2 linked regions of the Homo sapiens genome follow. The protein of the gene in region 1 interacts with the protein of each later gene in a pairwise test. Each region holds a gene or a part of one and is shown on either strand. Other genes may lie near its edges. The genes, in order: MOBP and WAC.

Region 1 (4,591 bases):
CCAGGCACGGTGGCTCAAGCATGTAATCCCAGCACTTTGGGAAGCCAAGGCAGGCGGATCACCTGTGGTCAGGAGTTTGAGACCAGCCTGGGCAACATGGCGAAACCCTGTCTCTACTAAAAAATACAAAAATTATTCAGGCATGATGGTGGGTGCCTGTAGTCCCAGCTGCTCGGGAGGCCGAGGCAGAAGAATAGCTTGAACCCAGGAGGTGGAGGTTGCAGTGAGGTGAGAGCGCCACTGCACTCCAGCCTGGGGGACAGAACCAGATTCCGTCTCAAAACAAAAACAAAAACAAAAATGTTAGTGTACAAAGAGATTTATAGTCAATGTTTGTAGTCTCACTGGATTACCTTTTCAAGGTTCCCTGGCTGATTCTTTACTGAGACAAGAGCCTAAAGAGAAACTTGGTGGTAATGTTGACATTTATATTACACTGTCATGGAGGGGGCGCTGGGAATTCAAAAGGCAAGGCTGCTGTTGGTTGGATTGGTTTCAGAAGTAAGCTTTCATCTTTCAAATCATTAGTGGGTAGTTCTAGTTCTACATATATAAAATAAATAGCAGAAGCAGAGTTACAGGACCCATGGCATTTAACAGAGCACAGAAAGGTGTGGCCCCACATTTTAGGTTAGGAAAATTATAAGAAAATGCCGGTGTCTAAGACTGAAGCCAATAAAATGTTAATTGAATGAGATTTATCATTCGCAGAAACTGTTCAACATAAGAGATGATTTATACGTGTTTTCATAAATGTGAATGCATAGGGTAATTGTCATGGAAACTTCCAAATTCAATGTTAGTTGTAACTAGACTGGATTAGACTCTTGCTAATCAAGTGTACAAGGGCATGCTTGTGTGAATTTTAGTTTTGGGGTGTATCTATGGGTATACATGAGTGTTTTAGGGAAGGAAGTGTGATCGGTATTTAATCTACATGGAGTATAAAAACTCCTGGAATTTGTCAATGTGATTGCAGCTGTGTTCATGGCTTATGGGTATGGCTTGTGATGTGTGAGTGAGGTATGGGGTGCTGGGTGGGATGGCGCTGTGGTGGCATAGCATGTTGGTGGAAGGGTGTGTGGTTTGGTAGGGTGAGCTGGTGTGTGGTGTGGTTGGACCTGGCATGGAACTTAACTGGAGTTTATGTGGAATGAACCTTGAGGGGTGAGTTTTCACATGGGGTGTTGATTATGTGGGAGGTGGGAGGCTGGAATATGTGAATGTTGGGGGGCTGTAGAGTGAATGTGGGGTGCGTGTGTATGTGTGTGTGAGATATGGTTATAGCTTAGCTTAGCTTTTGTTTAGATTTTCTTTTGCTCTTTGTTTTTGTCTTTGGCCTTTGTTTTATCTTTGTTTCGCTCTTTGTTTAAACTTTCTTTGGCTTTTGTTTGGTCTTTCTTTAGCCTTTTGTTTAAACTTTGTGTGGCCTTTTTGTAGTCTTTGTGTAGCTTTTGTTTTTAAGTGGATCTTCGCTGAGGACTCATCAAAAACACCTTGTGTAATGAAAAACCCAGATCTATAACCTCTCCCTATATATTCTGCATGCATTGAAGTAGGCTCAAACCCTCAGGGACCTGGTATAGACGCAGAATCTGTTTCACACAACAACTGCTATTTGAAGGTAAGAGGATTCCATTGGTTTTTATTTTACTTCATTTTATACTTTCATCTTTAAATGACAAGTGTACTTTTTTGTATGGGCCATTTCATTATATCCCAGGGAAAACTTTCTGTAAGAATAGTCAAGATTGAGAGGACATACAAGGATGGAGAAAACAAGAACAGAGGACACCATGTTTATTCTGATGTGGGCAGGGGGCCTCCTGGAATGTTCCTGCTAATGTTTGGAAATCGTCTGAGCCCAGAGAGAGGCTCTGAGCCCTTACTCAGATTTCCTCAGATTCAAAGCCCCATGTTCCTGGAGCTAGATGGATGGTAGTACATGCTGCTGCTGCTGCTGCTTTTTTTTTTTTAATTTATTTCTTCTTTTATTATTTGTCATGATTTAAAAATGAGTTTTTCTTCTTATCTAGGAACAATTTTTTTCCTCATACAGTTGGATTTATGTGTGGGGGATCTTAATGGAACAACAAAGCCCAAATCTTTTCGGAATTCTGCCCCCTGTAGACCAACAACCTTAAATGGAAAGGCGCTAATGCTTTGTCTGATACAGAATATCTTAGAAACAACAGGGAGTTTTCAGTTCTATGGATGACAGAGAAAGGAAAAAATATTATGTGTCAGGGAGGCGAGTAATGAACTTGGCCTACAGTACTAGCAGGAAAACGGGGAAAGGACTTTTTAATTCTTTGTGAATAAATCAGGGAGGCAGAGAGCAGGCTGCTGCCAGGTGTGCGGATATGCTGTTTCGTATTTAGAATGACAGGAAACTTGTTGGTGAGTGAGTTTTAAAAATTGTTTCAGATTTTCAGAAAAGTTGCAAACAATACAGAAAATTTCAGGTGCAGCCAAATTACCCAGATGTTCCTGTTTTACCATATTTCCTTTATCATTCTCTTTCTCTCTCTCTGTATCCATACATATGGGTGTATATATAAAAATATGTGTGTGTATATACATATATACATATGTGTGTGTATATACATATATACATATGTGTGTGTATATATACATATATACATGTGTGTGTATATATACATATATACATGTGTGTGTATATATACATATGTGTGTGTATACATATTACATATGTGTGTATATATACATATATACATGAGTGTGTATATATACATATATACATATGTGTGTGTATATATACATATATACATATGAGTGTGTATATATACATATATACATTGTGTGTATATATACATATATACATATGTGTGTGTATATATACATATATACATATGTGTGTGTATATATACATATATACATATGTGTGTATATATATACATATATACATATGTGTGTGTATATACATATATACATATGTGTGTGTGTATATACATATATACATATGTGTGTGTATATATACATATATACATATGTGTGTGTATATACATATATACATATGTGTGTGTGTATACATATATACATGTGTGTGTGTGTATATACATATATACATGTGTGTGTATATACATATATACATATGTGTGTGTATATATACATATATGTGTGTGTATATGTATAGATATATATACATATGTGTGTATATGTATATATACACATATTTATATCTAATTAATTTTAATTAAAATTTATTTTAATTGGAATTAACTAAAATTTATTTTAATTGGAATTAATTAAAATTTATTTTAATTGGAATTAATTAAAATTTATTTTAATTGGAATTAATTAAAATTAGAAAATTACTATTGAGAAAATACTGTTTTTAAATCTAGAGATATCTAGATTTCATCAATTGTCCAAGGAGCGAATTGAGAACCATGCATGACCTTTTGTTGTCCTGTCCCCTCAGCCTCCTTTAGTCTGGAACCACACCTGAGGCAGCTTTGACCTAGACAGTTTTGGAGAGTATAAGCCAGTTATTTTGCTAAATGTCCCTCAATATGGGTTTGGTCTGCAGTTTTCTCACAATTATGCAGTTTTCAAAGGAATAGGCTTGCATTTTAGATCATACATATCCAAATTCATACTTGAATCTGAGTATACAATTTTTAAATTCAAGATCTTGTTTACCTAATAGTTACTAGGATTTTAAATGAGTACCTAAAATCTTTGTACACCAAATTGCCAAAAATTAAAAATCTAGAGCTTTTACAGATAATTTCCAAGGAATCACCAAAAGTGTGTAAGTATTGCCCTTGGATTATAAATAGCAATTACAGTGACCTGTATGTGATCTTATAGGCTTAAAGTGAGGTATTCAATTTAGATTCTTTGTGTGTGTTGGAGTCATGTCTACTGCTCTCTGAGTATTAGTTTCATAAATATAATAATTCCTTTCTAAGTGCAACCATCTGCTGAAAGCAGATACAACTCAATAGAGTTTCCCTGGGTAGCCACTCCAGGCTGGCTGGCATCCTTTCGCGGGTTGACGGGGACGTCTGCCCTAGTGGAGGAGGCGGACCTCTGGCAACGCTGCAAAAAGTCTCCTGATCAAAAGTGTTTCCTACATGTTCTAGTACTCACACCTCAGCACTGAACTACAGACCACACCCATATTGAGGGACAACTAGCAAAATAACTGGCCAAAACTGTTAAAAACTGTCCCCTTATGGGGACAGGAATCAAAACTCTGAGATCCTTCAGCTGTACCAGACATTCGTAAAACAAGTCTTCTCAACAAAATCTGTGAGGTAGGAACTATCATTCACATTTTACAGAGAAGAAAATTGAGATCCAGAGACTAGCCTATGATTACACACAGCTAGTGAATGACAGAGCCTGGAACTCAAGTATGATATAAGCCTATTGAATTTATGGATGAGATGCATTATTCTTTTTTACTAATACATCACACACTTTACTTTAAAGTTACAAAAATTTAAGTTAAAAAGATGAGCTGAAAATGAACTAAGCAATATTTTAAAATAATTTTTATTAATGGTATAAAATTATTTGTACTCACTAAAAATATCAGTTGTATTTTTAATGAGAGTAA
Region 2 (3,828 bases), on another chromosome or scaffold:
TTTCTTCTCCAACTTGTTTCTGTTAAAAGCAGAAGAAAATTTACAGAAATAACAAAGAATGAGGATAATTTCAGGGGGATATTAATACTAGTTTAATTCATGCAGTAAGTAGAAATAAAGAGTTTATTTCATTATTAATATTAATCAGGATGCCCCCAAGTTGTGTGTGAAAGAACCTTTAAGAGGGATGTGATCTGGAGAATACTGCTAATATGCTCTATAATTGATTGCCCCATAAAATACAATAGCTGACAGCAGTTTTTTGGTTTTTTTTTTTTTTAGACAGGGCCTCACTCCCATTGCCTAGGCTAGATTGCAGTGGCTGAATCACGGCTTAATGCAGCCACGACTTCGTGGCTCAGGTGGTTCTCCCACCTCAGCTTCCTGAGTAGCTGGGACCACAGGCGCAAGCCACCACAGCTGGCTAATTTTTTGTATTTTTAGTAGAGACGGGGTTTTGCCGTGTTGCCCAGGCCGGTCTTGGAAATCCTGGGCTCAAGCCTTGCAAAATGCTGGGATTATAGGCGTGAGCCACCACGTCCATCTGACAGCAGAATTTTCGCAAGGAAAACATTTATCGTTTTATTTGAGTTTCTTTATGCTTGTCTATGAATCCAGAACAGTAAAGCTGAAAATAATAGGCAGTCTGCTGGATTCAAGCACCTTCCTTTAAAAGTGTATACCCTTACGCAAATAAAAATATCTTAGTCCTTCTGAGTTCATCATGGTTAATCAACACATTTTTGAAATGTACTTAAATCAGCTGTGAGATCCACACTTTAGAGAGCTATTATCCCTAGTTCTTTCGACCATTATAGTAGTGTAAAAAGACTCATAGGGGAGTCTGTTTTCAATAAGCTTGCTAGTACTGTATATATGATCTTGAAAATCTTAAAGAAATAGGTTGTTTCTAGTTTTATACTAAAAGCAAACAGAGTGCTGTTGTGATAGTCTTTGAATTTTCTCCTGATTTACATATATCTGAGTTTCACTGAGGGTGTGTACCTAAAGGGGAATTACTGGGTCATGTAGTGTTCGTATCTTCAACTTTTCTAAATAATGCCAAATTACTTTCCAGTGTGGTTATATCAATTTATTATCCATCAGAAATGTTGAGTAAATGTTCTCATTACTCTTTGCCAACATTTGGTATGTCTGACTTTAAAATTTTTGCATTATGGTGAGTGTAAAGGGTTATGTTGCTTTATTTTACATTGTCCTGATTCTGAATGAAGTTGAGCATCTTTTCTTGAATTTCCTAGGCATTCAAGTTCCTTCTTTGAAATAATGTCTTCTGTACATTTTTCTATTGGGCAGTTTGTCTATTTTGACGTATAGAAATTCTTTAAATAGTCTGATTACCACTACTTTGAATATAATTGTTCTGCTTTTTGTAACTTTACACATCTGCTTGGTGTTATGGATACCTTTCTGTGTTTTCCTCTAAGAGTTTTAAAGACTTAAATACCTACACAAAAGTTCAGTCTACCTTTAACTGGCTTTGTTTTAAATGTAAGTTTTTATATTTGGCAGGGCATGTCCTGCTGGCAGTGTTCTTTTTCTTCAGGTTATGGAATCTTCAGGATTTATGTTACTAGCTTGTCAAATAGTATTAACAGTGCTCTTGGGGCTTTGATTACAGTTACATTAAATCTATATAAATAATTGAAACAACAGCTTTCAAATAATTTTCCATGCGTATTTTATACATCCTTTATTTCTAAATACTATGAGGTGGGTTGTTTTTAATATTAAAGTGTCCTTTTTAATAATCTTAAAATGAAACAAATAGCTCATTGCCTTATATATTGAATTACAAAAGGGAAGTATGTAGTTACAAAACTCAGTTATTAAGTATAAAAGTCTCTTCTCATCACATCTTTAGCCCATTTTGGGTGTAACCACCTTGGTGTACCTACCCTGATTTGTATTAAGACCAGTGTCTTATTGAGGTAGGTTGTTACTGTGGCCATAAACATTTTTCACCTTATTTCATGAGATATAAATTAAATCCTGTAGAATTATATTGTCCTTTTATCCTAATGGAAGCTTATTTGAATGTGTGGTTAATAAATAATTATCTTTGAGATAGCATTGGTGGTAGACAGATTGGTACTTTTCAAATCAGATATGGGTATGATTTACCAGGTTTTATGGCTTCAGGTTATCTAACCTTTCTTGTTCAGCTTTCTTACCTATGAAATAGGGTGAGAAATGTCTAAATCATTATTCTAGTCATGTGAATGTTTACTGAGCATCTTCTGTGTGCTCCAGTGTGTAAGGGTTAAATGAGATTACTTACGTTAGGTGCCTGGCACATGAGAGGTGTTCCTTTGATGTTTGTTCCAATTTTCTCTATTCAGGTAATTTTTCAGGCTGATTATCTTTTTATTTAGAATCTACATCAGGAGACAAACCCGTATCACATTCTTGCACAACTCCTTCCACGTCTTCTGCCTCTGGACTGAACCCCACATCTGCACCTCCAACATCTGCTTCAGCGGTCCCTGTTTCTCCTGTTCCACAGTCGCCAATACCTCCCTTACTTCAGGACCCAAATCTTCTTAGACAATTGCTTCCTGCTTTGCAAGCCACGCTGCAGCTTAATAATTCTAATGTGGACATATCTAAAATAAATGAAGGTAAATCTTCATAACAGTTTTTTAAAAATTTATTTGCATTGTGCAAAGTTATGTAAGTAGTAAAATCCCCAGTTTAGGAATGGTCTTTGTTTTCTTTTGAAATTTATAGTTGAACACTTTTTTTTGTTTTGTTTTTTGTTTTTGGAGTTTGGAAATTTATATCCACTGTAGTTTAAGACCATTGGTAGTATAATTGAGTTAGTGGTGCTTGGATCTTGTGTATATTTTTCAATACTTGTTATGTGTCTGGTAGTTACTGGAGGTAAGCCATTCTATATACATAATGTGTATGGTGAAATTTTACATTAAAACAATCGAGCGTTTGTTGAAATCGGTATTAAAACTTCTGGTATGTTTCTAAAAAACCTGTATAAATAATTACTCAGAATATTTAAAATATGCTAATTACTAGAAAAGTAGGAATTCAGGTAGCTACTTAAAATACTTTCAAAAAATTCTGAGAAGGGAGGAGATAGGTACTAGATAAAATGTTGCCATTTTTTTCCTGGTGAATTGCATTATTTAATTCCAGCCTTGCTTTTCAGTAATGCTACTTACGTTTCAGAATATTTAGTCAGCCACTTTGAAAAAGTATGAATAAAAGTAGATGTGTTAATTTGGAAACTATTCAGATTCACACGTTAATTCCTAAAAGCACTGCAAAATTTTCTGTTGAAAATGATAAATTTTTAGGCCGAGGCGGGTGGATCACCTGAGGTCAGGAGTTTGAAACCAGCCTGACCAAGATGGTGAAACGCTATCTCTAATAAAAATACAAAAGTTAACCAGGCGTGATGGCACATGCCTGTGAATCCCAGCTACTCGGGAGGCTGAGGTACGAGAATCGCTTGAACCCAGGAGACGGAGGTTGCAGTGAGCTGAGATGGTGCCTGTACACTCCAACCTGGCTGACAGAGCAAGACCCCATCTCAAAATAAATAAAAATAAAGTGATCAATTTTTATGTACATTTTCACATAATATACTTAAAAGTAGTGTTAAGTGGTTAAGTTCTTATCCTAAAAATAAAGCTATCTCAGGCTAGTTGGTCATTAGTCTGTTCTTACTGTCCTTAATTTTTTTGTATTTTTATTTTATTCTCTAACCACGCAGTTCTCTTGTGTGGTAGGTAAATGTTTCATTTAGGCAAAGTGGGGCTTTTAGATAGTTTGAGGAGGCCAGATGCA

What was found.
Region 2: the proteins of MOBP (region 1) and WAC interact in a two-hybrid assay, tested with the Homo sapiens proteins (one large-scale study listed by BioGRID).

What each region holds. Positions count from the first base shown.
Region 1 is NC_000003.12:39,466,117-39,470,707, forward strand, and holds the start of MOBP (myelin-associated oligodendrocyte basic protein), read left to right. Parts: upstream 1-1,563; 5' UTR 1,564-1,624; intron 1,625-4,591. UniProt on the Homo sapiens protein: May play a role in compacting or stabilizing the myelin sheath, possibly by binding the negatively charged acidic phospholipids of the cytoplasmic membrane.
Region 2 is NC_000010.11:28,605,790-28,609,617, forward strand, and holds part of WAC (WW domain-containing adapter protein with coiled-coil), read left to right. Parts: intron 1-2,396; coding exon 2,397-2,642; exon of another isoform or gene 2,643-2,653; intron 2,654-3,828.